Regions from separate parts of the Homo sapiens genome. Here all the other regions are linked to region 2. Evidence: fine-mapped expression QTL. A gene starts in region 2. Each other region holds a variant in brackets. All regions are shown on one strand. Distances are between the middles of the regions. Region 1 holds the start of LOC105369322 (a long non-coding RNA gene). Region 2 holds the start of PTGDR2 (prostaglandin D2 receptor 2). Region 3 overlaps MS4A10 (membrane spanning 4-domains A10). Region 4 overlaps LOC105369322 (a long non-coding RNA gene).

What was found. PIP is the estimated chance that this variant, and not a neighbour inherited with it, causes the effect. A credible set is the group of variants that fine-mapping cannot tell apart.
Region 1: its variant is the best candidate, but not a certain one, in a credible set for the expression of PTGDR2 in monocytes (TOPMed, PIP 0.70).
Region 3: its variant is the best candidate, but not a certain one, in a credible set for the expression of PTGDR2 in subcutaneous fat (FUSION, PIP 0.90).
Region 4: its variant is the best candidate, but not a certain one, in a credible set for the expression of PTGDR2 in whole blood (TOPMed, PIP 0.51).

What each region holds. Positions count from the first base shown.
Region 1 is chr11:60,830,775-60,839,038 of GRCh38, forward strand. LOC105369322 (a long non-coding RNA gene) reads right to left here and starts at 5,365. Exons shown (of 3, transcript XR_950149.3): 1 at 5,222-5,365; 2 at 2,941-3,260. The variant G/A (reference allele first, on the strand shown) is at 4,050.
Region 2 is chr11:60,853,287-60,858,286 of GRCh38, forward strand. It overlaps PTGDR2 (prostaglandin D2 receptor 2), which reads right to left and starts at 2,664. Exons shown (of 2, transcript NM_004778.3): 1 at 2,583-2,664; 2 at 1-445. The coding sequence starts at 436.
Region 3 is chr11:60,793,191-60,801,454 of GRCh38, forward strand. It overlaps MS4A10 (membrane spanning 4-domains A10), which reads left to right. Exons shown (of 8, transcript NM_206893.4): 5 at 782-913; 6 at 2,365-2,475; 7 at 5,206-5,324; 8 at 6,638-8,115. The coding sequence ends at 6,719. All of the region lies in intron 2 of LOC105369322 (a long non-coding RNA gene), which reads right to left. Among named protein-coding and RNA genes, the nearest start is that of MS4A10, 12 kb to the left of the region's middle. The variant C/T (reference allele first, on the strand shown) is at 4,178.
Region 4 is chr11:60,816,225-60,824,488 of GRCh38, forward strand. The region is part of intron 2 of LOC105369322 (a long non-coding RNA gene); the gene reads right to left. Among named protein-coding and RNA genes, the nearest start is that of CCDC86, 22 kb to the right of the region's middle. The variant G/A (reference allele first, on the strand shown) is at 4,190.

The DNA.
Region 1 (8,264 bases), 21 kb before region 2:
ATATGTAAAGCTCTACCTTAGAATAGAGACTGCTTCTAGAAGACACCTGAAAGTGCTGCCTTATTGAATACCTTGCCCAAGGCCTCACATTAGCAAATCATATAGCACTGATTCAGAAGGAAATGACACAACCCAGACACCTCGCCCTGGAGGAGCAAGAGGACTATCGAGCCACTGACAAACATTCAGAGCAGCGCTTCCCGGTTCCCACCTCTGTCACATGACAGCCTATGGCGGAATGCATATCCCAGTAACTGGGAGACTCCAAAACAGTCACCGTATGTCCCCGTGGCATAGACCTAGTTTGCAACCAGTGTCGCATCTAAACAGATGTTCCTGTTTGGAGGATAAATTATATCCCTGTAAACCCTGGGAGAGTGGCTCTCTACACGCAGGCAGCTCCAGAGACTTGCAACATACGGCCACCAGGTGGCGGCGTAGCATCGAGCACTGAACTTGAGCACCTGCTCTGGGCAAAGAATTCATGAATGCCCTGGCCAGGCAGATACCAGTCTCAGATATTTGCGGGCACCTGCTGAGGCTACTGGTACCAGCAGGATCAGCTCCACTCAAGGCTGCATTCAGAAAGATATTTATCTGCAGAATGGAACAGAATTGGTCAAGGAGGGAACAGCCAGGAATGTCATGGTTCAGAGACACTAAGCTGGTACCTTTGGGCTTCCGTTGACACCCGCTCCTCCAGTTGTGGTTACCCTGAGCTATCCTCACTCCAGGAGCTACTCATGGCCTTTGGGGCATTTCGAGGTTATTCCACATGAATTCTTAGTCTTATATCACCAACAGGATTGTGTGGCCTGGCACAAGTCCTGCTTAGAGGACGGATCAGAAACACTTGGATGCCTGGGGCAGGCTAAAAATTTGGCAGTCTTCCAAATTGATAGTCAAATATGTCTCATTTCAACTGAGTGAGGATGGCAAGAAGCCATTTTCACATTAATACAAATCGTAACCCCCTTTCTTCATGTTCAAAGTGGAGATGTATTACACGCACCAACAGGACTCTAACTGATTTTGGAATTGTCTTTCCTGATTCTTCCCTGACTCATAACTGGAAAGCATTGCTCACCCACTCTCCCTCATTTGTAAATAGCAGAAATTACTGCAGAAGCAATAACAAGTCTTATTCTAGATATATTTATTGCTTGTTTTCAGGCGCTTGTGGTTACAGCAACGGTGTTTCACTTGGTTGCCCAGGCTGGTATGCATTGATGCAATCATAGCTCACCACAGCCTCAAACTCATAGCCTCAAGCAATCCTCCAGTCTCAGCCTCCCGAGTAGCTGGGACTACAAGTGGACAACTTTTTAGGAGATATTTTTTAAGGCTTGCAGATACCTTCTTGGTAAACCGTCCTTTGCAGTGCATTAATTGGTTTCAGAATTCAGGCTGCCCAGCCATGCCCACTGCAGAGGCTGCCAGCTGGCTGATCTCAGAGCCAGACTGGCCAGTGGATGCAGCAACTTGCAATGCACATTGCAGAAATACCCCCACAGAGGTAGGCTGGTGCTGGGGAGGAGTAGCTTTTCTTTCTACTTAGGGGCATTGTCTATTTTGGCAAAAGGGACACCAATTTCATTTCCACCAGCTATGTGAGAAGCTGCAGGTGGAAACCTGAGTTAACAGGCAGCAGATTTCTGATGGATCCCTGTGGTTTCAGTGTTCCTCTGATTAGTGGATCAGGAAGCTGTCCACCTGCCCAACCCATAATCCCCTTTAACTTGCCTCCTCCAGGAAGTCTTCTTTGACATTCTCTCACCCTTGGGGACCTCAGCTGGTGAAACCCTATCAGTTTCACCACTGGACCTAGCTTGCCTTACTGGGCTATCTGTATATAGATTCCAATCTTATGTCTCCCCAGCTAGACTCAACACAGTTTGAAGACAGCATCTACATCTTACATTTTTTGTGGTCCCTATGATACCCAGCATATGCCAGGCAACAAAGGAAGGTTTACTCGAATCACTTCTTCCTTGTTGACTGATATCAAATCCTTTTAGAGAGTGTCCAGGTACCAATTCCTTGAACAAGCTCCTGAGTATGGACCTGACGTGTCCCTAACACTCATTATACCTTTCCTAATGATTCTTTTGTGTTATTTCAAGAAAAAGTGGGAACGTTTAACAATTATTCTCCAGAAATTACCACCACAATGTGAACTTGTCCTTATCCAGAAAGTAATTTTACATTATCATAACAACTAGAACATGGTAATGTTAGCAAAATTCTCTCCAGAAATCAGTATCAAAACTTTTGCCCACTAGATGTTTGTTTCATAACCATTCATCCGACAATTTTTTATTGCAACAATTATTTATTGAGCAACTACCAAGCACAGATGGTCCTCAACTTAAGATGGTTCAACTTAGGATTTTTCAACTTTATGGCGGGTTTATTGGGAGGTAACCCCATCATAAGGTGAGGAGCACCTGTACTAGTTTGGGTTTGGGGGATATAGGAACAAACAAAATAGGGGAAAAAACTTATCATAGGGAACTGATATTCTAGTCAGTGGGAAATGGACAAGTAAGATATATTAACATATTGTGACTAAAGAACACGGAAGGGCTCATTGATCCAAACGGCCTCTGATGAAGCAATGGTGCTATGATGGGCATCATCCCTACCAATCATATTTGCCCCAGAAAAGGGTGCAAAGATAACCAGAAGACTTTCCCCCTTGAGAGAGATGCCTGCTTGTTAGCAAATAATTTCTGTACCAGTTGCTATGTCACAAACTACCCCAAAACTTTCTGGTGTAAAACAATCATGCTACCATGCTCATAGATTTTATAGCCCAGAACTTGGACAAAGCAGAGTAGGGAGAGGCGATCTCTGCTCTATGATTTCTGGAGCCTCTGCTGGGAAGAATCCAAGTTGAGAGTGGGAGCTAGAATCATCTGGAAGCATCTTCACTCATACCTGGCAGATGATGCAGGCTGTCAGCCAGGACCTCAGCTGGGCTGTGAGCTAGAGCACCTTCACAGGCCTCTCCATGTGGGATGATTTGGACTTCCTCACGACATGGCAGGTGAGTTCCAAGAGTTAGCATCCTGTCCATGAAAGCCAGGTGGAAGCTCATAGCATTCTTATAATCTAGCCTCAGATGTCACACGGCAGGCTGGGTGTGCAGTGGCTCATGCCTATAATCTTGGCACTTTGGGAGGCCGAGGCAGGAGGATGGCTTGAGGCCAGGAGTTCAAGACCACCTTGGGTAACATAGCAGGACCATAGCAGGACCTCTGCAAAATAATAATAATAATAATAATTATCCAAGTGTAGCAGTGTCCACCTGTAGTCCCAGTTACTCAGGAGGCTAAGGCAGGAGGATCGCTTGAGCCCAGGATTTTGAGGCTACAGTGAGCTATGTTCACACCAGGCTGGGCAACAGAGTAAGACTCTGTCTCTGAAAATAACGTGAAGAAGTCACATGGCAACAGCCTGCCATACTTGGCTAGGGCAATTACAAAGATCCATGCAGGTTTGAAGTGCAGGGGGGTTGTAGACCCCACTACTGGAGGGAAGGGGGCATCTAGGTCACATGGTAAGAAAAACATACGGGTAGGAGATACTTTTGAGGCCAACTTGGGAAAACGCAATGTCCTACACCACCTGTGTCTAATTTCCAAACAAGTGGGATATCTCGATCTACCCAGAGTCATCTTGAAAGCAGAGAGCAAAAACCACTCAAGCAAAAGATAATATCTGAGTGTTGTATAATCTTTGGTTTGGAGCAGAGAACAAAAAAAGCAGCAGAATAACACTTCAATTGATCAGCCCCTGCCCTGTATAGAAGGTATTCATAATGATCTGAAATTTCTGGCTTATTTTCAAAGAATAGAAAAATTAGGCCTGGGCTAGAGAGGAGACTCATTCTTGATTTAGTCAAGTGCCTAAGACACAGAGACAAAGCGGTGTGAGTGAAACTGTACACACTTTGGAAGCAGAGTGCTAGATTTAAACCCTCACTGTGCCACTTACCAGCTGCCTGTCCCTGGGCAAGTTTCTCCACCTCTGAAAAATAGGGCAGC[G/A]ATATTAACTTCCTCATGGGGTTACTGTGAGAATTAAATGGGGTAATATCTGCCAAAGCCTTCGTAGCTACTCTGGAAAGAATCTCACTCATTTAAACTGCCAGTGAAACTGATCCATTTTTATGATGTTTAATTAACTGCAATAAAATGTGTTCTCATCAAGACTGCTGACCATTCTTATGTCCTGAAAGCTTACCCTAAGTGACATACTTTTCAATTGGTAAACACAGGAATGGGCCTTTTTGGGGAAATGATCTGCTTGTTTCTATAACTGCCCTTTGAAAGAATGCACCATGGCATCGGAGATCCAGAAGAATGAGCCTTGTTGATCCAGTGGGGTCCAGGAGTTGCTCCGTCCTTGGGGGGCTCACGTTCTGTTTGCTCCATGAGAACAGAGAAGGGAGACTGTTGATTCAGGGGAGGGCTCATCTCACCAACCTGGCATTGTATGAGCCTGCTGAATCAGATTTGGGGCCGGTTTTGATCACCACTAGAGTGTCAGAGAAACTCAGCAGTAGAGAAAGCAGAGATTTTCCCTATCACGTGGTCAACAGGAAGCAAGGAATCAAGAAACCAGGAACCAAGCTGATCTCATAATTTGCTCATAATTTGCTCCTGGTATGCTCCTCCTTGGTCACCAAGGCAGGGTTTCCAGGGGTTGCCATTGAGATGAAGCCACCATATTGATTGGAAGGGATGACCATCACTTAGGCAGATCTCGCACTGTGCAAGGCTTAGAGCTTTAGAGGAAATGAGAGAATAGGGAGAAGTGAATAGAGAGGAAGCCAAATATTAGAGGAAATGAGAGAATAGGGATAAGTGAACAGAGAGGAAGGGAGGGGAAGTGACTCACTATGAAACTGTGATTTTTCAGGTCTTAGGAACTGAGAGTCCATATGTATGGGATGTAAAAATGTGTGCCTACCCATCTGTCTGTCTAAGCTCTTCTTCCATACACAGGGATGAAGCCCGCAGCTTTCACCCACTGGCAACATATGCACGGGGTCTATAGCTCTCCCATCTAAATGCAGCCCCATGAAGCTGAGATGGCTCATAGCCAGGGAATAGGGGCCAGATTCTGAGTTGAGAAGTCCTGAGTTCAAGTCCTGTGACTTAACATGTGGGTAACATTCAGCAAGTCAGGTAACCTCTCTGAGATGCCATCTCCTCACCTGTAAAATGGGGGAATTAATTCTTGCTCAGCCTTCCTCAAAGGATAATTTTCAGATTCAGGTGTTTATTATCTGTGCCCCCAAGATGCCGTAAGATCCACTAAGGCAGGGACCATGATTGCCCTCTTCCCTGTTGTACCTCTTCATGACACCTGTCATAAACATTCAAAAAAGACTTGGTGTACAAATGAATGATAGTATGATGAACTCAGCCCCTGCCCTAGACAGAAGGCAAAGAAAGAAAGCTCTTCTTCCATTGCTCGTTCCTTCCCACCAGATACTGCTCCTTAAAGTGTGGTCTGTGGACCAGTAGCAGCAGCATCACCTGAGAGCTTGTCAGAAATGTGAATTCAGTCTGGGCATGGTGGCTCACGCCTATAATCCCAGCACTTTGGGAGGCCGAGGCGGGCGGATCACCTGAGGTCAGGAATTTGAACCCATCCTGGCCAACACGGCGAAACCCCGTCTCTACCAAAATTACAAAAATTAGCTGGCATGGTGGCGCATGCCTGGAGTGCCAGCTACTTGGGAGGCTAAGGCAGGAGAATCGCTTGAACCCGGGAGGCAGAGGTTGCAGTGAGCCGAGATCACACCACTGCACTCCAGCCTGGGCGACAGAGTGAGACTCCATCTCAAAAAAAAAAAAAAAGAAAGAAAGAAATGCAAATTCATGAATCTTAATTTGGGGGGTCAGAGCCCAGTAATCTGTGTTTTAACATACCCTCCATGATTCCAACACTGACGTTTGAAAAGCACTACTGTTGGACACACTGGGGTGAGGTGCCATGCCCCCTTCTTGAGTTAACGACTTTCTACCTGGTTCAGGTGTTCATTACCCAACCCACCCCACCTCTTCTTGGCCTGCCTTGGAGCAGGAGAAATGCTATGGAGGCTGGCAGGGGCCTGAGGAGGGAGAGGAGGTCTTGTCTCCTCCTCCCCCTCCCCATGGTGACCTGGGGTAGCAGGTCTGGCCCCTTCCTGTTTCAACAGAACCTGCAGATACCGTGAGAGGATCAGGAGATAAACTCTGCTCTCCTCAGCCCTGAGCAGGGGCAGATACATGAGAGCTTTGCAAAGTGGGCCTCTCCCAGCCAGGCAGCTTCTCTGCACCCTGGCAATGCCCCGTAGGGGCAGCTGGGAGGTCTCAAGCTGGGATTTCAAGTACCACTCCATCCTCCCCCATCCCTTGACCCCTCTCCTGAGGTCTCTTCCCACCTCCTCTCAAGGGTCTGAAACTGATAATGAGCTGTTAGAAGCACGCAGCATAGATGAGCCTCTGAGATAAGCATGCACGGTAAGAACTCACACGATCACCCTGGTAGTGTTCCACGTTCTCAGTGGCACCTGATTCAAAGTACCTAGAAGCAGCTCTTCACACGTGCAAAAGAGAAAGTGGGGGTAACTACTGAAAGAGGAGAGTTGGGCTCCCAGAGAGGTAAAAACAAAATGCAACAGGGACAGAGGAAGAATCCTGCACTATCCGAAAAAGCCAACGGTTCATGTCCAAGATCAGAGCAAGGGGATGTAGGGAGCAGGAGAGCCTGACAGCCACGGGAACCAGACTGAGGGTTTCAATCAGATGTCCATGGGGTGGCTTGAATGTGATCTTGACCACACTGATACAGATCATGGAGTAGGGAGGTGACAAATCCACTCAGCCGTCCATGGGGCAGTCAACCTTAGTGCCACAAGGAGCTCTGGGCCCCACATTCTGGAAGCATTGTAGAGAACTGGTGTCTTTCCCAAAGACTTATCATGTTATGGGAGGAACAGGAGATGCTTAACCTGGATAAAAGACAATTCTGGAAAAGCTACAAGAAAACTGACTTCAAATACTTGAGAGAGCTTTGAGCAAAAGACAGAGCAGCTTGGATCTTTGTAGCACAATGAAGATTAGCTGAGGCCCAGTTGCACCTCTGCCCATCTGGGTCCTGCCTTCACTCCTGCCATGCTCAGCAACATCCTCGTTGCCAATGACACCCCAGACTGAGTCAGCCCCATGTCCCAGTCCTAGGCCTGGTGGAGGTGGAGGTTTAGGGCTTAGAGTCAAGAAGCCCTGAGCTCCAGACCTCACCCTGCGCCCTTTTTGTGTCACCCTGGCCCCGAAGCGCAGCCTCTCTGGGAGTGGGATTTCCTGGTCAGTACAATGAGGATGATCACCCCAGCCCTGTAAGGTCCTAATGAGGATCCATTCATTCAACAAATACATATCAAGTACCGTGCTCCTGCTGAAAATCACCCTCCCGAACCGGAGCTCTGGGGAGCACAGGAGCACCCAGAAGAGGTCTGGCGCGTGGTAAGTGCTCAGTTAATGCTGCTGATGACCGCCAGGGGCCCTTTCCCTGCCCTTCTCTCAGAGTTGGCTTCTGGAGAAACACAGCCTGAAACACCGGGGCAAGCAATGATTGGTCCAGGCATTGTTTCAAGCACTCTGCAAGTACACCACCACACCAGGCTCTTCTGAAAATTTCAGGAGTCTCCTCTGGGCCTCTGCACACCATGTATAATGACAATGACAAACTGAGCTCAGGTGGGAGTAGGGGGTTCTGGGCCAGAGCCCACCTGATGCTGAGGTTGACAAAGTGTCTCCAAGTGTCTGGGGGCCACCCAAAGGCCTCCTCTAAAACACATCTCCCTCTCTCTGGTGAAAACCTGAGATCACCCTCTGAAGTATTTCAGGCAAGGCTAGGTGTTGAACAGAAAGCCATGGGGACCCAGGTCTCTGACATCTGGGGACTGTCAGACCCTCTCAACTGTAGCACCCCTTAGCTGGGGGGAGGTCAATGACTCAGAGGAGAACACCTGATCCTATCTTCCATCCATCTGCCAGCGCTTGGTTTCCATCAGTCAGCAGATCTCAGGTTACATAAATAAACTGGTATTGCTGATTCGGCACATTCTGCACGATGGTGTGTGCCAGGTGGTACCCACCTCCTCCCAGCACACAGACCAGAATCAGTGTGACGAATAGGTGAGCAAGGCCCATGTGGGGGCAGCTGCAAGGCAGCTAAGCATGCCACCTCTGGAACCACAATCCTGGCTC
Region 2 (5,000 bases):
CCACGGTGCGGTGGTTCTGCGCCCACACCGGCCGCACCACCTGCAGGCAGCGGTCCAGGCTGATGGCGCTGAGCAGGAAGCCGCTGGCGAACATGTTGAGAAAGAAGATGGAGGAGTGCAGTTTGCAGAAGGTGGTGCCCAGCTCCCACGAGTGGCCCACGGCCAAGAAGTAGGTGAAGAAGGGCAGGGAAGCAGAGGCCAACAGGTCGGACAGCGCCAGGTGCAGCACCCAGGTGGTGACCACGGTCTGGCGCATGCGGCAGCCCACCACGAAGAGGATGACTCCATTCTCCACCAGGCCCAGCAGCGAGGCCAGCCCGTGCAGCAGCACGGCCGCGTGGTCGATGTAGCGGATGCTGGTGTTGCTGTGGCTCTGGAGACGGCTCATCTGCTCCAGGATGGGGCAGAGTGGCTTCAGTGTGGCGTTGGCCGACATCGTGGGGCTCTGCAGTGGAGGGAAGGAGGCGCCTAAGTTGGAAGTGCAGAGGCCACCGGGGAACCAAGAGAGAGGCCCGGAGTGGGACCCTGCCCAGGAGATGCCAATGTGACCCACGAATATATTGGGCGGTGGGGGTGGGGGGAATAATATCCCAGCATTGCTGTGCTTGGGCAAGTCATTTAACCTTCCCGAGCCTTTTTCTGCCTCTGAAACTTGGATGTCAGTCATAACATCACCTAGCTCATAGAGTTATTGGGAGAATTAAGTGAGTTTAATACATAAAAGCATTTAGAACATGGCCTGGCACAGAGCAAGCACTTTATCAGTGTCATTGTGATGATTATGGAGCAAATGGTCTAAGATCACACAGAGAAAAAGGAACAAGGTCAGGCCACACAGGACTCCTTTTTCCCATCCCCAGAGCACTGGCGGGTGAAGGAGGCCCCACAATTAGGGCAAGAGGATTCTGCTGGCCTGGGCGATGGAGATGCTGCCCCTTCCCACAGCATCCACAGCGCCCCCAGATGTTGCCTCTCTACAGATCCTCCATGCAGCTCCCCGCACTCAGTGGTGGCTGGTTAGATGTGCCGACCATAAACAGTGGAACCAGCCCCTCCTCTGATGGTTGGAGAGGAAATAAGATAAGAGCCAGGAGAGCTGGGGAGGAGGAACTCCCACATGGGGCTCTGGAGGCCCAGTGGGGCCAAAAGATCTCTCCCTTCTCAGGAGCAGCCACAGCAGCTCTCTCCGCCCCAGGAAACCCACCCCTGTTCATTCACTTACTCCATCATGCACTCATCCAACAAATAAGACGTGCATGCTTACATCCTCATTGAAAGCCCGAAAGACCATCTGATGTGAGGCTGGTCAAGACCAGTGAGGGCTGAGGAAATTCCATGAGGCTCCATGCAGGAGGTAGGAGGCAAGTAGCAGGGGACAGGGACTCAGGGTGTCCTGGGCACCAATGACACTCCAGGTACTATGGTAGGTCCTTCACATAGGTGCTGTCTTTCTGGCTCTAGAAAAATGGTGCTAGTACTCCATCCTATTTTACAGATGAGAAAACTGAGCCTCAAGTGGTTAAATAACTGGCCCAGAGCCACCCAGACAGCACAAACATGTGGAGGAGAAAGTTTCATGCTCAGCCTGTGCTCTTTCCTCTACCCCTACTCCAAGGAAGAGAGGATGGAGGAGGAGGAAGAAAAGCGGGAGAGGGGAGCAATGGTCTTCAGTACTCATCTTTCTAGGGAAAACACTGTTGGCCAGGATGAGAAAACCCACTCCCTTCCAGAGACCACAGTCCTTTGTAGAGTGGGGTTCTGGAATATCAAACTAGAATTCTGCTGGCGGAGGAGCCCCTTGGAGCTAGAGACCTGCAGGTAGATGGAAGAGGAGCCTGTGCTTCCTGAGAATGGTCATACTTCCTAGGCTTTAGAATGTGCAGAGCAGTTACTCTTGCAATGAACCTATGACACCCCATTTTTCAGAAGAAGAAACAACAACTTGCCCAGCGTTCCTCAGCTGCAACAGTGGGGCTGGGACTTCACTCCCAGCAGATAGCCAAGTACCACCCGCTGTCTGCCCTGAAACATTCCCTGCAGACCAGCTGCTGCTGATCCAAGTCCTATGGGGATGATCAGAGAGCACAGTCCTGCCACACCCTTGGGCACCACCAGATCAGTCCTTCTAACTCTATAGAGACAGCCCCCAGCCTCCCAGGATTCTCAGGAGCCAAGCAGCTAAGGTCCGGCTTTGGCAGGTTAAGAAAAAAAAAAAAAAAAAGGGACAGAGAGTGCAAGCTGTGGGAGTCCAAGACCTGGGTTTGAATCCCAGCTCCTCAGCTTCCTGGCTGCGTGACCTTGGGCCAGTTACTCTAAGCGTGCTGGTGTCATCTTCCCACCCAGACTGCTTGTGAATATTGACAGACAGTTGAGTGGTTTCCCCTCGTATCTGACATCTAGTTAATGCCTAAGAGAAGCTAATCCTTCCCTCCTCTGAGCACCAAGTCCCCTCCAGTCTTTGGTAAACTCAATCTTCTGCCATCCTAGCTGGTAACAGCCCTCTCACCTGGTAAAACTTTGCCTTCTTCTGTGGGTCTAGAGAGGGCACTAGGCTGCCCAACCCCTGGGCCACTCCTCCTTACCTGGGCACAGAGGGAGCACAGGATTCCAGCCCTGGAGGCAGTCAGCTCCTGACAGCAGCTAGACAAGAGGCAGCGGGCAGACAGAGGTGGGAGAGGGAGGCTGAGAGAGGAAATAGCTGTCAGCCCCAGTGCATGTGTGTTTAGGGGTGGGGTTGGGGGAGGCGGGGACAGCTGGAGAGTGAGTTGCCACACAGATGTTCAAATATCATCAATTTCCATCAATGCCGGCAGCCCCTGCTCCACCCATCCCCGCTTCATGAAGGAGACTGCAGAAGTCCAGAGGGCAGTGCAAGTGCACGTGAAAAAATCGATGTGTGCAAGAGAGTGTGAGCCCGAGTGTGACTAGGGGTGTGCTTTTGAGAGTGACCAGTGTGTAGGATAAGTGCGTGAGAAGGAGAATGTCTCATCCATCTGTCCACTGTTCCTGGGCTTCCATCTCCCGACACCAGAATCCTCAGAGAAGAAACCCCTCCAGCTGTTCTGAGTTTCCCAGGCAGTGTGGGGGCCTGTCCATGAGGGACCCGAGGGCTCTAAGGCCAGGAAAGTACAGTGGGGTAGTGGGGGCAGTGGCAAGAACGCAGTCCAAGAGGTCAGTCACTTCTGTTTGCTGAGCCCTGGGGTTGTCATCTGTGAACGGGAGCAGTAACATCGGCCTTACAGGCTGTGGTAAGGGTTGAATGAGATGGATTGCACAAAGCTCGTGGCACACAGTAAGTGCTTATAAAAATCAGCTTCCTTCTCCTCTGAGGGAAAAATGAATATAGGCTCTAAGGCAAAGGTCATATAGCTTTTATTTAAAACAGGCTCAATTTTGGGAGGCCGAGGCGGATGGATCACTTGAGGTCAGGAGTTCAAGACCAGACTGGCCAATGTGGCAAAACCCCTGTCTGTACTAAAAATACAAAACTCAGCCAGGCGTGGTGGCACATGCCTGTAACCCCAGCTACTTGGGAGGCTGAGGCATGAGAATCGCTTAAACCCAGGAGGTGGAGGTTGCATTGAGCCGAGATCACACCACTGCACTCCAACCTGGGTGACAGAGTAAAAACTCCATCTCAAAAAAAAAAAAATGGAAATTTAAACTAAAAAACAAAAACAAACAAACAAAAAAACACACAGGCTCAAAGCCCTAGGATAAGAGAAGTTTGCATTTCATTGTTCCCTAACTCCTTACTCTCATTTGCTGACCAAGCTTCCTGGGGTCAGGACCATCCCTTCAACCTCAGCATCTCAGCACCTAATGGATACTCATTAAAACATTTTAAGAACTCAATATCCCTGTATCGAGGCAAAGGCACCTCCCATGAGATGGACAGCACAAGCATCTTCCATTTAGGCCTAGTCTTAACGCAGAGACTAATGCATAATACGCTCTTGCTGAGAGGCTACCATCATGAGTGGAAAATGAGTAAAATGCTATGCCCTTGTGATGGGGATAATACATCTCACTGTAGCCCAATATGGCAGATCAGTAAGAGCCTTGGTGATCCAAATCATTAACAATAGGAAAATGTCCCCTCTCCTCCAGGTCAGGGAAGGCTTGATTTCCAAAGACAAATGCCTGCAGCCCTCCAGAGAACATAGGTGGATGATTCCATTCTGCATGGGGAAAGTGCCCTCTTTTCCACCCACCCCGGACACCCAACCCACTGAACCACAGACAAGGCCACGTGTGCCTTGTCTGCGCACAGAGAGTGTCAGGCTGTGGTTAAGCCCAGGGACTCTGGGGCCAGACCACCAGTGTCTGGATCTGGCACTGCCACTCCTCAGCTATGTGATCTTGGGCAAGTAACTTCACAGCAGTAAAATATGAACTTTAAATGGTGTTCCTTCTGCACAGTCCCACCCTCAAAGGACAGGGGTTGGAGCCCAGATTTATCTTTGGACTAAGAAAAAGAATCACCCCTTCCCCACCACCCCACCCCACAGACACATCTCAGCACCAGGGCATCAGGCTTGAGATAAGGCACAGCCCTTCCTCTGGATCTCAGCCCACCCTTGACCCTTCCACTGGTATCCTTGTACAGTGAACATCCTGCACAACCTCTCCTGGCCACCCTGCTGAGGTGCTTCTTTTCTGGCTAAAAAACCCTTACTCATCTGCCCCTTCTCAGTCCTTGTTTCCAGTCCTGTAATCACTGTAGTGACTCATGTCCAGCCCCAGTGCGAGTGTGTTCCTCTCTAAAGAAAACCCAGTGTGTGTGTTCTCTCTAAAGAAAATGTATTACTAAGTAAACAAAAAAAGCTACTAAGCTTAAAGTTACCAAAACAAGTTCCAGATGAGCAGGGCCCAGAGGCATTTTCTGAAGAAGAGCCGTGCCCTGCCTTATCCCATGGCTTGTGTCCCCCAGGACTGGGAGAAAGATGCAGCTGCACTCAGGCTCAGGCCCTAGTCCCTAAATTACAACCTCCTCCAAG
Region 3 (8,264 bases), 58 kb before region 2:
ATACAGAATAGAAGGATGGTTGTGCAGTTTACCCAGCAGAGGCAGGAGATGCTTGACAAAGACGTGCCCATTCCCCAGACCTCACCCTCCTGGGCTGAGCCCCTTTTAGAACCACAGGCCTCTTGCTTTGTATACCTGAGCATAAGGACACTCTTACTGTAAAGAAACCCATTCCAGTATAAAAGGCTACAGATTCCATATGTGCATAGTCTTTCCTCACTAGGAGGATTTGCACTTGGCAAGAGGCTCTTGGAATGATGCTTAACCCGAGAGGACGATGAATACAGGCATTTCAGGAACCATGGCAGGTGGGCGGAGAAAATGGGCTGGTACTGGGACATGTGAGGATAGGGCACTTTCAGAGCTCCTCCTGACCTTTCTGGTGGGGAAGGGGCTGGATGAGGGGTCACCTGGGTGTCGAATCCCTGACACTTGGCATAGCTGATGTAGGATGGTCGGGGCTGGCTTTGAGCAGGAAATGGCAATAGGGCATCCTTTATTGCAAAGCTCTTGGATCTGAAGGCAGCTCTTGGGTTCTCCCAATTTGTCCCATAGAAGGCAAGGGCCAGCTGGACCCTCCTCAGTGGTCACACAGGAGCAGCTCAGCTCAATCCTGTGTGAGGGGCTGAGGGGCCAGTGACAGGCAGAGGGGGCCTTGGGCCCAGTGACAGGCAGAGTCTCTCCTGAGGCTACAGAGGAAGCTACTGGCAAGCATGAGGGGAGGACCTAGCCCCAGGTCTCCACCCTTTGGACAGCTGTTACCTTTATTTTTCACCTATAGAAGATGTTGTGCCTGATGACAAACCTCATCAGCCTCTTTTGCGTGCTGTCTGGCCTCTTCGTCATCTCCAAGGATCTCTTTCTGGAGAGCCCATTTGAGTCCCCGATCTGGAGAATGTACCCCAACTCCACGGTGAGTACCCAGGCCTGGAGGGCCCTCTGACTTCAGCGAAGGTGCTGCCTTGGATTTGGCCAACAGGAGGTTTCCAGCTCACAGAAAGCCCCTCCTGGAGCCCAGGTGTGGGCTGCTGGGCCCTTTGCCAACCTGTTTCTGTCCCCTACAAGGTGTGGTGGAAAGGTGGGTGCTGGGCTGCTGACTGGTCAGCATCACTGAATCCAAGTCCACTTTTATAGATTGGGAAATGGGGCCAGAGACGGGGAGGAGCCTGCCTGAGGTCAAGCAGCAACTTGACGGCAAATCCAGGACCACAGCCTAAAACTGCTGATTTCCCAGCCAGGGCTCTAAGCATGGTGTGCCTGGTGGCCCCTGTGATCCGGGAGCCTCCCATCAGCCTTGCAAAGCTGGCCAAGTCCACTTTGTTACCCTCATCTTCTGGGAGTGAACACGGAGGTCCAGAGAGGCTAGATTAGTGGGTCTTTGACTCCAAGCCTGGTGCTCTTTTCACCATATCACTGCTGCCTCTGAAGCAGAAGGCAGACCACTGGGTGCCTCTGGGCCAGGCTCCAAGAATTCTTTTTTCTTTTTTTTTGGAAGGGGCGGGGGAACGGAGTCTCACTCTTGTCACCCAGGCTGGAGTGCAGTGGCACAATCGAGGCTCACTGTAACCTCCGCCTCCCAGATTCAAGCAATTCTCCTGCCTCAGCCTCTCGAGTAGCTAGGATTACAGGCACCCACCACAGCCACCACCACGCCAGGCTAATTTTTGTATTTTTAGTAGAGATGGGGTTTCACCATGTCGGCCAGGCAGGTCTCGAACTCCTGACCTCTAGTGATCCTCCCGCCTCAGCCTCCCAAAGTGCTGGGATTACAGGCGTGAGCCACCATGCCCACAAGGGTTCTGACCATAGTGGTTTGTTATTCCTTATCTCCTCCCAGCACATACACACACGTGCATACACATGCACATCACATGCATGTGCGAGCATGCATGGACACACATGTGCGTGCACACACACACATATACATATGCTTCCCCATCAAATGCATGTGATACTATGAGATGACTCCCAGCTGCACGGCTCTTCCCCTCCTCTGCTGTAAAACATGCTCCCTCACTCTGGGACTAGGTACCCCCATCTGTCAAATAGGCTTGGATCAGATGACCCTAAGGCTACCTTCATTCTTACCAGGGACCCATGAGATTCTCCAGCCCTCAAACGTTAGGCCAATACTCACCAAAGACCCATATGTGCCAGGCATTGAGTGTAGGGCAGTGACCAAGACAGACCAAGTCCCCGTCCCACAGAGACCCACCCTGCCTTCCCCACGCACACCTGGGAGCTGAAACCCCACCTGCCCTCTGCTGTGGATCTTAGCAAGGACCCCTGCCTGGCTAAGCCCACGTGATGCGTGCAGACACCCAGCGAGGCCTCACCCTGCCTTCCTTCCCTCTACCCTCTCAGGTCCACATCCAGAGGCTGGAGCTGGCCTTGCTCTGCTTCACTGTCCTAGAGCTCTTCCTGCCAGTGCCCACAGCTGTCACAGCCTGGAGAGGGGACTGCCCATCTGCAAAGGTAAGACAAGGGCTTGTCTTCCCAGGAAGACAAAAAATGGGGGCATGAGGCAGCAGAGAGCTCAGAAAGGAAAGATATGTGGGGGTTACAAGAGGAGCGTGTTTCATTCATTCCTCACGTTGCTGAGCGTTCACTAAGTGACAGCCCACGATCCAGTAGGGGAGCCAAGGCACGGGGGCAAGAGAGGAGGCCAATCCAAGGAGAAAAGGGTGAGGCTGCCAGAGAGGAAACTCCATGGGTGCCCAGAACAAGAGGCTACTGTGCTGCCAGCTCTGAAGGCCCTGGGGAAATTGCATCACAGAGGCCCATGATGACCGGGCAGGATTCGGACCCACAGGCATAGGTGGAAGAGAGACTTTCAGCAGAGCAAGAAGAGCACGAGCACTGGCTTGGAGACAGGACAGAGAAGGCCTGGGGAAGCTATGGTGTGTGTGGAGTTTGGCTGTAGTGGAAACAAGTGACAGAGTCATCAAAGATTGGGCATTTAAGGAATTGCAGGGACTCTATTAAGCATCAATCGATGCATCCATTGATGGATGGATGGATGGATGATGTATGGATGGATATAGACGTGCAGATATACAGATAAATATAGCTGTATTTAACTTTATCTTCTCAATAACCCTTTTTCTTTTGAGACTGAGTCTCACTCTGTCACCCAGGCTGGAGTACAGTGGCACGATCTCGGCCCACTGCAACCTCCGCCTCCCGGGTTCAAGCAATTCTCCTACCTCAGCCTCCCAAGTAGCTGGGACTACAGGCATGTGCCACCATACCTGGCTAATTTTTGTATTTTTTTAAGTATAGATGAGGTTTTGCCATCCTGGCCAGGCTGGTCTCAAACTCCTGACCTCAAGTGATCCACCACCCATGGCCTCCCAAAGTGCTGGGATTACAGGCATCAGCCATCATGCCCAGCCCTCAACAACCCTTTGAGGTACTTACATTCTCATACTACAGACTAGCAAGCTGAGGTCCAGAGAGGTCACATCACTTCTCAAGGCGAAGCAGCCAATTAGGAAATCCAGGACTCAGCCTGAGCTATGTCCAACCCACAGTCTTGCCCTTGTCTACCCATGGGGATGGCATAGGGCTAGATATATTTTAAAATAGAAGGCAAGTCTCTGCTCACCCCAAAGATCCTGAACAGTTCAGGATAAGGATGTTTTATAAAAGAAAAAAAATAAATAAAAAATAAAGACCCTGACCAGAAGTGATCTCTAAGGCTCATTTCTTTAAAGAAAAAAAAATCATATTACAATCTCAACTTTAGAACATTATTTAAAAAAGTGCCAAATCCCCCATAATTCTTCAAGTTTGACACTGATTTTCATGTTAGTGACCTCATCACACACCAAGTGTTCACATAATGCATATATAAGTTGATGGCCTCTGAGTTTCATTTAACATCAAGCAGAGAAGGTGTCTTTGTTAATTCCTAGCTGCCTGACAGGAAGTCTTCTCATTAAGACATCAGAAAGCCAGATGGGGGTCTTGAGTCACTGAGGCCAACCCCACTTTTAAGGATGGGGAAAACTGGGGCCCCATACCTAGCTGCAGCTATGAGCAATAATTGTTCCTATTTATTGACCTTTGCTGTGTTCCAGGCACTGTGCTAGTGCTGCAGGTGGCTGTATTCATTTTCTATTGATGTTGTAGTAAATTATCACAAATTTGGTGGCTTAAAATGACACCTGTATTA[C/T]CCTACAGCTCTGGAGGTCAGCGGTTTGAAATGAGTCTCAAGGGCTCAAATCAAGGTGTGTCGCCAGGACTGCATCCCTTCCGGGGGCATCAAAAAGAATCTCTTTCCTTGCCTTTTCCAGCTTCTAGAGGCTGCCTGCATTCCTTGGCTTGTGGCTCCTTCTTCCACCTTCAAAGCCAGCATCACAACATCCTCCAATAACCCTGTCTCCCTCTTCTACCTTTAAGGACCCTTATCATCATACTGGGCCCAGAGAGATAATCCAGGAGAATCTCCCAATCTCAAAGCTGATTGGAAACCTTAATTCCATCTGCAACCTTAATTCCTCTCTGCCGTGTGACCAGAGATTAGAACATGGGTGTCTTCTGGGGGCCGTGCTTCTCCCTACTGCACTAGCTAAGATGTCCTTGAATCTCACGGCCATTCTGGGACGCAGGTTCTGCTTTTCCATTTTAAAGAGGAAAAAATGAACCTTAGAAGAGTTACGTGACTTCCCATGGTCTCACAGCCAGTAAGTGGCCATGCCAGGTTCCCCAATGGGCCCTGTGCCCTCCCCATCGGTAAGGATGGTGCCAGGGACAGGCTCTCCAGCACTGAGTTGGTGCCACCCTCATCACTAATCAGGGATGGAGGTGTGGCAGCAATCATTGGCAGACACTGTTGGCATTAGACCTGCCCCTAGAGTGTATCCTGGCTAGAAGGGACTTGGGTCATGGCCCAGCCCCCCTCAGGAAACCCAACAGGGTGAGTGACTTGCACCTGGTCACCAGGACACTGGTAGCGGGACGGGAACCAGAGCCCCATCCAGTGACTCCCATGTGGGCCTCCCCCTACTCCCTTTTCAAGAACAGGGAGGGTGGAGGGAGTCACACACTGGTCTATGGAAGTCGCTTCGTCTCTCAAGCCTCAGTTTCCCCACATTCATGGAGAACTTGAGTCTTCAGAAGTGAACTAGCAGAGAAGTGTTTCGGAAGCAGCCAGTCGCTCCACAGCTGTGAGCAGCAGGGGCGGCGACTTTTCTTTCGCAGAATGATGATGCATGCCTTGTTCCGAATACACCATTGCATCTCAAAGGCCTGCCGGTGGAGCCCCCGCCATCCTACCAGAGTGTGATTCAAGGCGACGCACAACACAAGCAACATCAGAGGTGAAGAGGTTTGGCCCTGGCTCCCCAGACCTTCAGAACCCACGCTTGGCCCCTTCTCCCTGGCATAGATAGAAACCAGTTCCCAGGGGAGCTGTAAGGGGCAAGGGGCTAACAGTGCTGCAGCTAGAACTGCCTGGCCTGGGAGTGGTAGCCAAGGCAGCAATGGTCCTATCCCCTCAGGCACTAGAGGAACTCCCAGGGCCCCCCAGGAACATCTCAGCACCTGACTTGGTTGACCAGAACTACCTCAGCTGAACCTGGGCGCAACCAGGACCCATCGCCTTCCCTGCCAGCCTCCAGAGCAAACCCCTGGGCCTGCAGCCCCCTGGTGCCCCCCATGCCCTCTGGCCTCCCTTGCCTGCCTTCTCTGATCAATGGTGGATGCACAGGGGGATATAAGGGCAGCCAGGAAGGAAGGTCTCCAGAGCGGCACAGGCAGGGGCTTCCCTTGCCTCAACCTACTAAGACATCTCTGAGGGAGCCTGTGTGTCTGAATCCCTGGATTTGGGCTGAGGGCAGCTGGGGAGTTGAGTCCCATAGAAACTGTGTACAGTTCTTCCCTCTGAACTAGACCCTCTGCATGAATCTTTTTGCCCTCCTGGACCTCAGTGTCTCCATCTGTAAAGTGGAGGTGCAAGGATGACATGATCCAGGAGTCTCCCAGCTTGAAAGCTCTGAGATCAGGAGAATTCAAGGTTCACAGTTGTGACATCGAGGTTGCCAGTAAAACTTCAGCCTCGGAATTTCAAACCTACTTGTGCTAAGTAAATAATGTGAGGGAGAGGGACCTGCCTTCCTCATTTTCCTAATTTCAGTCATCTGAGGAATAGTCTTCAGGACTTTTGCTTATTTGTGAGCTGCAATGTATTCTGGTTTTTTTTCCACACTGATTCTTTTTTCTATATTATTTTAAAGGGGCACTTTGTAGCAGCAAGATATAGGAAATCAGTATCTTTCCATAAACAGAAGCAAACCCCAAAAATAACAAACATGTGAAATAAAACGCAATTTTCCCCTCCAACCCCGTGGTCTCACCCACTGCTTCCCTTCCTCTTGCTAGCTCTGCCCCAGCCACCATGGCTTCCTTGAGGTTCCACAGACACCCCAGGGACACCCCTGCCTCTGAGCCATCACCCTTGCCCTTCCTCCACCTGGATTCTCTTCCCCCAGGTATTTGCAGAGCTCACTCTTTGAATCTTTACTGGGCCACTGACTCTGAGCCAAGTAAATGCTATTTAATCTCAATGTCATTTAATCCTCCCATCGATCTGTGACCTAGCTGCTGTTGCTATTAATATCTCCATTTCATGCAGGCTCAGAGAAGTTAAGCAAGTTGCCCCGGACACATGGATAGTCACTGACGGAGCTGCGATCTGGACCCAGACTGCAAACTGAAGAGCCACTGCCTGACAATGCCCAAACTTGGTTGGAGCATAGCCCCTGCTCTCCCAAAGTTGCACTTTCACTGGGAAGATGAGATTTGCACATACAAAAGGCTAGAGCGATGGTCTATACAGCAAAGTCAGCCCTCACAGCTCCTGGGAACGCTGTCCTCTCAGATAAGCCATTTCTTACATAGTTGATGGCTCGATATCTGTGGTGGCCCAGATTGTTTTGTTTTGTTTCGCTTTGTTTTGTTTTCTTTTGTTTTGTTGAGATGGAGTCTCGCTCTGTTGCCCAGCCCAGAGTACAGTGGCACTATCTCAGCTCACTGCAATCTCCGCCTCCCTGGTTCAAGTGATTCTCCTATCTCAGCCTCCCAAGTAGCTGGGACTATAGGCACACGCCACCACGCCCAGCTAATTTTTATATTTTTAGTAGAGACAGGATTGCACCATATTGGTCAGCCTGGTCTCAAACTCCTGACCTCAGGTGATCCACCTGCCTCAGCCTCCCAAAGTGCTGGGATTACAGGCGTGAGCCACTGTGCCCAGCCCAGGTTTTGAAGTTGTCCGAGATAGCAGTCTGCTCTCTACTGCCTTATAAAATCCCTGTGTGAAGGGATGCTCTCAGTATCATTTGCCCTTGCACAGAATATCCCTGGGGTTTGAGGTTCTTTGAATTCTCCCTCTTTGTCATCTCTTTCGCTGCCACTTCTGGCTGTGGTCACTAGCTTGGCCATAGCACCTCTCTTCTCCACTTCTGATCTGCTGCTTCTAACCTTCTATAGATTGCAGCTGGCTTTAAAATAGATTGTAAAGTGTAAGGCATTAGGTTCTGAGACAGCGGCAGAGAGAGCCATGCAAATGTTTAGGACAACCCAGTCTTTCTTTTTTTTTTTTTTTTTTTTTTTTTTTGAGACGGAGTCTCACTCTGTCACCCAGGCTGGAGTGCTGTGGTGCAATCTCGGCTCACTGCAACCTCTGCCTCCCGAGTTCAAGCAATTCTCCTGCCTCAGCCTCCCGAGTAGCTGGGATTACAGGCGACCGCCACCACGCCTGGCTACTTTTTGTATTTTTAGTAGAGACAGGGTTTCACCACGTTAGCCATGATGGTCTCAAACTTCTGACCTCATAATCCACCCACCTTGGCCTCCCAAAGTGCTAGGATTACAGGCATGAGCCACCACCCCTGGCTGAAACCCAATCTTTCAAAACATGAAAGGGGGTGATGGAGAAAACCTTAGCTTGGTTGTCTAAAGACATGGGTGCAAACTCTAGGCTAGCTCTGCCAATCACTTACTGTGCGGGTTTGACTCAGTCCCTTCCCCTCACTAGGTCCCAGTTTCTCCATTTGTAAAACAAGCAATTGTGCTACATTGATGGTTTACATCAATAAAGGTTGAAACGGCTTCTGGTTCGACTTCTATTTTTCAAAAATCAGTCAGTGGAAGACTTGTCAATGTTCCCTTTGAAAGGGCACTGCCTCCGCAGGTGCGTGGTGGAAGCCCGGGCAGGGTTAGCTGGTCTCGGCGGAGCATGGCCACAGCCCAGTCCCTGA
Region 4 (8,264 bases), 35 kb before region 2:
GCCGCAGGGTCCTCTGCCTAGGAAAACCAGAGACCTTTGTTCACTTGTTTATCTGCTGACCTTCCCTCCACTATTGTCCCATGACCCTGCCAAATCCCCCTCTGTGAGAAACACCCAAGAATTATCAATAAAAAAATAAATTAAAAAAAAATAAAAAAGAATAACCAAAAAAAAAAAAAAAAAAATCCCAAGTAAACACATTAATGGATTCCAATAGTCAAATCTGGAACACAATGTACCTTTGAGTATGCTTGATTTCAACAGTTTGTTCAAATAGTCAAAATCTATATTTTAAAAGTGGAATTCTCATCAAATATTGTCCAAAAAAATAAATGAGTAGAAGTGAGACGGCCAGTCAAGTGTTTTGCCCTGCCGTTTGCCCACTGTGTGTGGCCTTGGGGATGGAGGGGGAGATGTTGGGGAGGTACAATGGGAAGGGAAACTTCTCCTCTCTGGCTATAAGTTCCCACATCTACAAAATGAATAAGCTGAAAGAAAATGAAAATATAACATATACAAATCTGTGGGATGCAGCTAAAGCAGTTCTTTGAGGGACATTGATAGTCTTAGATGTTTTTATTTGAAAACATGAGTAGACTCAAATCAATAAAATAACTTTCCAACTCCTTCCCTTAGAAGACCAGAACAGTCACAGCATCATACAAGCATGACTCCTAACAGGTGGATGCAATCTACCAGTCATTCTAGCCCATCACTCTCATTTTACAGATGGAGAAACTGAGACCTGGGGAAGGCAGCAACTGGCCTATCACACAGAATGTTAGTGGCAGAGCCAGGACTTGAACCTCAGACCTGTTATTGTTTCTCTTGGAGGTCAAAGACTGGGGCTTATCTCCCTGCCTTTATTCCTAGGATGGCACAGGTAGGAGATCCCGAAAACTTGTTATTCTTTGTGAAGCTTGATCAATGAAGAACCTTTAGGTCCCCCCAAACACTGGTCCATGTCCTCACACTGGACATGTGGCACTCACATGGCAGTTTCTCCTGGCAGTGCTCAGCTGTGTCCTGACACCCTTCTGGATCCTCCATCCCATTGATTAATCATCTTTGGGGACTAATTTCCTTAGACTATGTCCTTGGTTAGCCAACCTTTTCCTTTTGAAGCTGAATGGGGTCAGTTTCTGTTATTTGTGTTAATTCTGCTAGACTGGGAGACTAGTGGGGATTTTTCTAACTTTGTAATCCTGGCACTTAATATGTGTTGGAATAAAACATCTGTATGGGCGTGGTGGTGCACACCTGTAGTCCCAGTTACCCAGGAGGCTGTGGCGGGAGGATTCCTTCCTTGAGCCTAGGAGTTCAAGTCCAGCCTGGGCAACATAACAAGACTCATCTCTTAAAAAAAAAAATCTGCTAACTTTGCCCTCCTCTCGGCTTGTGTCTGGGGAGGACCCTTAAGGAAAGAGCAGCCACATGGCTGGGGCTGGGCTCAGGCTCCTGCTCCCCAACTTGAATGGGCAGAAAGGAAACAGCAGGAATTTATCCAGCACCTACAGTGGACTGGCCATGACAATACCACCCCCTTTACACAGAAGAGGAAGCTGAGGATCAGAAAGTCGAACGGCTTGTCATAAGGAAGCACACTTACTGGAATTCCAGTGCAGCTGTCGTGCAGCACAATCCGTGGGTAACTCAAGTGAGACCCCGAGCCTTGCCGAAAATGTGGATTATATGGTAATATCGGCAGAGCCCAGGCAGGACCTCAGAAGTATTAGACACAGAAGTCACACATGTTTGGACAATGGATGCTATTTTTCTGTTTAAATTTTTAAAAATTATAGTAGAAATGTATAGTTGATCCCAACCATGAAACTAAGAATGTCAGAATCAGAAATGACTTTGGGGATCATGATCGGGTCTAATGCTTCCATTTCACAGATGAGGAAGTGGGGGCCCGAGATAGGAAAGGACTTGCCAAGGTCACACAGTACCGTTAGTAGAAGCAGCCGGGTCTCCTCCCTCTCCAGACAGTCCTCCATCTACTGGCAGTCTCCTGCCAACTCCTGCTGAATGGTCAGGAATGTTCCCAGTTCCTTCTGCCAACTCTATCACCTGTAGGGGTCTCTATCCCCACAATAGCATCACCCACCAGCTTTTCCTGATGGTTGCTCTACCCCACTGTCATGGCCCAAACAGGTGACAGAGAAGTCTAGAAAAATAACTCCTCCAAAAATATCCAGAAAGAGTTAAGGGAGTAGTGAGAAAGTGGCAACAGGGCTGACCTGCCAGGAGGAGCAGGGCTTTTGCAACGGGCTCCATGAAGCCATGAGCCTGAGGCTCGGGGTGCCTTCCCAGCATGCCAGCCCCACCAATCCACTGCCGAGGTTCAGACATGGCCCTGGACAGATGTCAGGATTAGCAGATACCCACTTACAAAAGAAACACACAGGCTTTTCAGAGAGGTGTACCCATATTTCCACAGAGGACAGGTGGGCATCTCAGACGGCCTCATCTCGAGGACTCATCTCAAGCTGTTTGAGACAGGTCTATAGGACCCAAGGGGTGAGCACAGTTTTAAGCCTCAAGAGGGCCCTAGTCCATTATTTCTGCAGCTGATTTGTGTCTGGCAGGAAAGAAAAAGCTAACATGGATGCAGCCACCTCCACGTGCTGGGAACTGCACGGGCACTTTGCATGTAGTATCCCATTTAATCTCACAAGATCCCATGGAATAGGGATTCCTCTGCCCCCTTTTTGAGATGAGCAAATGAAAGCTCAGGGAGGTTAACGAACCTGCTTGGGTGTGGGGTTGTATCATCAACACAGAGGGCTACGCAGCCAGAAGACCTCACAGGCACCACTGAAACCCACCAGGGCCTGAAGGATGGGAGGGTTTGGATGGGCCAGTATCCTGCAAACTGGCCTGATCGAAAGGGTCACCTGGGGTATGTTAAACGTGGAGATTCCCAGGCCCCTGCCCTAGAGAGTCTGATTCAGAAGGCCAAACGTGAGGCCCAAGTCACTGTATTTTCAGCAAGTGCTCAGATGATTCTTATGATCAAGCAAGATTGGGAAACACCAGGTGGAGAAAGAAGGAAAAGGAATGGGTTGCAGGGCATAGACACGCCTTGTGCAAAGGCTCAGCAATGACCTCAGTGAAGCATGTTTGGAGGGCAGTGAGAGCACAGGTTGAGGCAGAGAAGGAGTGATATCAGGAGAGGTGAAGATGTGTCCAGGCTGCTGGACAGAGAGCCCCATGACCAGGTGAAGGTCAAGAGCTTCAGGCCTTAGGATCCCAGGGACCTCCCAGCTCTCTGTTCCTGGGTTTGCTTAGAATTGGAGGCATGTTTTCGGTTTTTTGTTTTTGTGTTGCTTTTTATTTTTCTTTTAATGTCTCTCACTTTTGCTTAGGGAGGCAGTGGGATGAACACTGGACAGGAGTCAGAAGCCATGGGTTCCAATATAGGCCCGACTATTTACAGTCTGTCTGACCTGAGCCAACTGGAGGGTTGCTCCCAGGCCTCATCACACAGGAGGCTTAGTAATTAAGCACAGGACCATGTGTGAAGACTCCAGGTAAGTGGTAACAAGCCATACAGACAGGTGTAGGCTGTGGAGTTGGTGGTGTTATTAACTAGCCTGGCGGACTAGAAGGGAATGGCCTGGGAGATAAGTGGGGATGTATCGTAAAGCAGGAAAAAAACCCAGGTTTTCTAGCCAGCTGTCTTGGATTTAGATCCCAGCTCCACTATTTATTAACCGTGTCATCCAAGCAAGTTACTTAACCTCTCTGGTCCTCAGTTTGCATAAGAGTGAAATGGAGATTGGGCTTACCACATTATAAATGCATGCTGGTAAGCATGAGGTTGTAGTGGTTGTCACCAGGTCCAAACTTCTTCCCTTACCTCTGTCTCATTAACTCCCTTTTACCTCCATTCCCCACAGCCTTCCAGCCCCAGGTAACAACTTCAGCACGTTTTAATGCATGTTGTGTTACAGGATATTAGTGTACACATATTTAACTTGTGTGTATGGTATTGTTTTGTCTCATTTTGGTTCTTTTTTTCCCCCTCTCAGCCTGTGTCTAAGAGCCACCACGTTGCTCTCTGTGGACATCCTGACCTTTGCTTTTAGCTGCTAAGAATTACACACAATTCATGTTTTACCAATCACTCCTCCTGGTGACGTAGCTTCACTTTTCAGATGGGAAAACTGAGACCCAGGAAATG[G/A]GGATCTGCCTGTGAATGTTCTTCCTCATCCTGGGACCCCAGTTGTGTGTGCTGCAGGTGTCTGAAATGTCAAAAGCAAGACCCAGGCTCCAGCTCCCTCCAGGAGACATGAGGCAGCCCAGCCCACAGCCCACCTGCCTTCTGAAGCCAGCTGACAGGGCAGCAGCAATTAGTGAGGCTCCCTCCTTCTGAAAACTCAGGGGTGCCATGGCAGAGCCCAGAGGAGCCATCCTGGTAGGCTGAGACCCTGGGCAATGCCCACCCCAGCAGAGAGAAGCTCTTTTTCCGGGGACAGCCAACCATCTTGGGAGTAAGTGGATCACCCAGTCTCCACAGACCTGTGCAGCCACTGCCAATCCCAACAGTGATGCAGTCAGTAGAATTTATGGGGCCAAGGGTACATACCAGTGGAGGGACTGTGGAGCAGCAGGGAGGCAAGACAGAGCTGCTGGGGTTTTCCTTCCTGGCCTCCAGCCCTGAAAATTAGCAGCAAAGGGCTGGGGCTGCCACTGCCCTGGAAAGCACTGCTTGAATCCAGGATACGAGAGCAAACCTATGTCCCCCTTGCCAGGCCCCAGGAGCTGGGTACCATCGCTCTAAGGCAACTCTGGGGTGAACCGGGAGCTTTCCTTTTCTGATGCCGCACCCCTGCATCAAGGCTCTCCTCATTGTAGCTGATTGGGTCTTGGTCAGTGGTGAGACCAGCACGTGTGGGCAGAAGTCTGTGCCTGTCTCCCGCTGATGTCAATGTGGGCAGCTGAGCAGAGAGTATGGGCCCAGCCAGGCACTGGAATCCTAGCTCCTCCGTTCTCTGCATGTGTGGCTCTGGGTCCCAGTTTTGAAAATGAGGTCTCTTTTACCTTGCCGTTGAGCACGAAACGATGGGAGGAGCGGAGCCTGCTGGGAGAAGCTACTCCTCTTGGGTGACAGAGAGGTGGAGTGTTGAGGGTGAGGTCAAAGTGCTGCTCTCAGGTCAGAGAAGCCTATTTGAGACAAATGATCGCAAACTTCTGGGCTTCAGCCTAGGCTGAGTCAACCCTGTGCCCTGGAAGGACAGGCTTGCATGTGCGGTATGGAGGCTTAGGGAACATGGGCAGAGGCAGGCTCCGATCCCACTCTGAGACCCCAGCTTCGTCCCTAGAATGCCATGAGCAGGGTGCTGCTCCATTCATGGGTGTGGTGAGAGCTAAATGACTTGGTGCACAGAGCAAGCTCGGTGCACTCAGGGCCAGCACCTTGGAGGTAACCAATGTGTTGGGCTTGATGCCTGAGATGGCCCTCACCCAAGCTTTCTAGGGTTCTGCAATCCTGCGGTGCCCCTGGGACGAAGAGGCCTGGTTCTGCGCCTGCCCTCACTGGCTGGGGAAGTTGGCAAGGTTCTTATTCTCTCCAGGCCTCTGTTTTCTTGGCTGCCAAGGAAGGAGGTGGATGGGGAGTTTGTCTAAGATCCTTTTCGGCAGAGACATGTGCACAGAGACCTGCCCAGCCACTCAAGTCCTGGGAGACACAGCCCCAACCCCGAAAGCCCAAGGCTTTAGCTCTGCGCCCTCCCCCCTCCACCCCCAGGCCCTGCAGATCATTATCAGCTGCTGGCAACTGGTGGCTGGCAGGTTGGGGGGCGGGCCGCATCCTGGCTGCCTCCTCGAGCTCCACCGAGTTCCCCACCACTTACTTGTACCCGCTGGCAGGAGGAGTGCTCCTGAGGACCCTGGAGATCCCACTTGGTGGTGGCCCAGAGACAGAGAGGACTGCAAAGACCAGGACTGCAGATCCTCCCTGCACCCTTGGGAGGGAGTTTGAGTCTGTGAAGTGGGAGTGAAGCTGCAGGGGGTGGAACTGTTCTGAGCTCGAGGGGAAGTTCCAGGCCCACCCCACATGGGATTGGATGGCCCAGGGGAGGCACTGGGCTGTTGAGGCGGCCAGCTAAAGAGCTGAAGCTGGTTCACAGCGTGTGGTGGGGGGAGTCGTGGCAAAGGGCCTCTGCCCCAATATATGCAGCCGAGGAAGGAGAAAGGTGGTGTCCCTGGGGACTTACCCCGAGGGTAACACTCAAGTCAAGGCGCTCAGCCACTACAATGAAACAAAAGCCCCTGGGACTTGATTTCTAGATCCAGATCTATCACTTAGCAGCCCTGTGACTTAGGCAGGTTGCCTCCTTCTCTCAGTCTTAGTTTCTCCATCTTCAAAATGAGAGACTAGTCCCTCCCACCTCCAAGCATGGGCCAGAGACCAGCATCTTTGGCATCACCTGGGAGCTTGTTAGAAATGCAGAGTCTCAGGCCAGCTCCAGTGGCTCAAGCCTGCAATCCCAGAGCTTTGGGAGGCTGAGGGGAGGATCTCTTGAGGCAAGGAGTTTGAGAACACCTGAGCAACATAGCACGACCTTGTCTCTACTAAAAATAAAAAATGTTGATATGCAACAAGATATAAAAAAGGAAAAAAAAATTAAAAAGGAAAACTAGCTGGGTATGGTGGTACATACCTGTAGTCCCAGCTACTCAGGAGGCTGAGGCAGGAGGTTCACTTGAGCCCAGGAGTTGGAGGCTGCAGTGAGCTATGATGGTGCCACTGCATTCCAGCCTGGGCCAGAGAGCAAGACCCTGTCTCTTAAAAAAAAAAATGCAGGCCAGGCATGGTGACTCACGCCTGTAATCCCAGCACTTTGGCAGGCCGAGGCGGGCAGGATCACGAGGTCAAGAGATCAAGACCATCCTGGCCAACATGGAGAAACTCCATCTCTACTAAAAATATAAAAATTAGCTGGGCATGGTGACACAGACCTGTAGTCTCAGCTACTTAGGAGGCTGAGGCAGGAGAATCGCTTGAACCTGGGAGGCAGAGGTTGCAGTGAGACGAGATTGCGCCACTGCACTCCAGCCTGGCGACAGAGCAAGAGGGAGACTCCATCTCAAAAAAAAAATTAAAAATAAAAATAAATAAATAAATAAATAAATAAATGCAGAATTTAAGCCCCACCGTACACGGGCTGAGTCAGTCTGCAGCTTAACAAGATCCCTAGGCGCTCATGTCCTCTGTCAAGTTTGAAAAGTACTGGACCAGTTACCTAGGAATCTTTCGGGCATTCCCGGCTAATTTTTGTATTTTTAGTAGAGACAGGGTTTCGCCACGTTGGCCAGGCTGGTCTTAAACTCCTGACCTCAGGTGATCTGCCTGCCTTGGCCTCCCAATGTGCTGGGATTACAGGCATGAGCCACCATGCCCGGCAGGTACCTAGGAATCTTTAGTGGCCCCCTTCTAAAATCCTATCTCACCAACCTATGCAGAGCCCAGTGGGGAGGACTAGATGCCTTTCTCTGTTCCCATAAGCCCCATTACTCCCTGTTGTCAGGCCTCTGAGCCCAAGCTAAGCCATCATTTTCCCTGTGACCTGCATGTATACATCCAGATGGCCTGAAGCAACTGAAGATCCACAAAAGAAGTGAAAATAGTCTTAACTGATGACATTCCACCATTGTGATTTGTTCCTGCCCCACCCTAACTGACACAATATATTCTCCCCTGCCCTTAAGAAGGTACTTTGTAATATTCAAAGTACCACTTTGTAATATTCAAAGTACCCTTAAGAAGGTACTTTGTAATATTCAAAGTACCCTTAAGAAGGTACTTTGTAATATTCAAAGTACCCTTAAGAAGGTACTTTGTAATATTCAAAGTACCCTTAAGAAGGTACTTTGTAATATTCAAAGTACCCTTAAGAAGGTACTTTGTTCGCCTATCCCAAACCTGTAAGAACTAATGATAATCCCACCACCCTTTACTGACTCCTTTTTCGGACTCAGCCCACCTGCACCTGGGTGAAATAAACAGCCTTGTTGCTCACACAAAGCCTGTTTGATGGACTCTCTTCACACGGACGCGCATGACACTTGGTACATGGCCCACTGTGCCAAGCCATAAATGCTCATGGCAAACCTTCCCTGCATTAGGGTTTCCAGGAGGCAGGTGCCTCTGGGCTCCCTGAGACCATCAATCTCCCTGCCTCTCTGTGCAGTTCTTAGTTTCAGGAGCAACCACCCTGGTCATCTCAGCAAACTGCACAGTTCCCCGGGTGAGT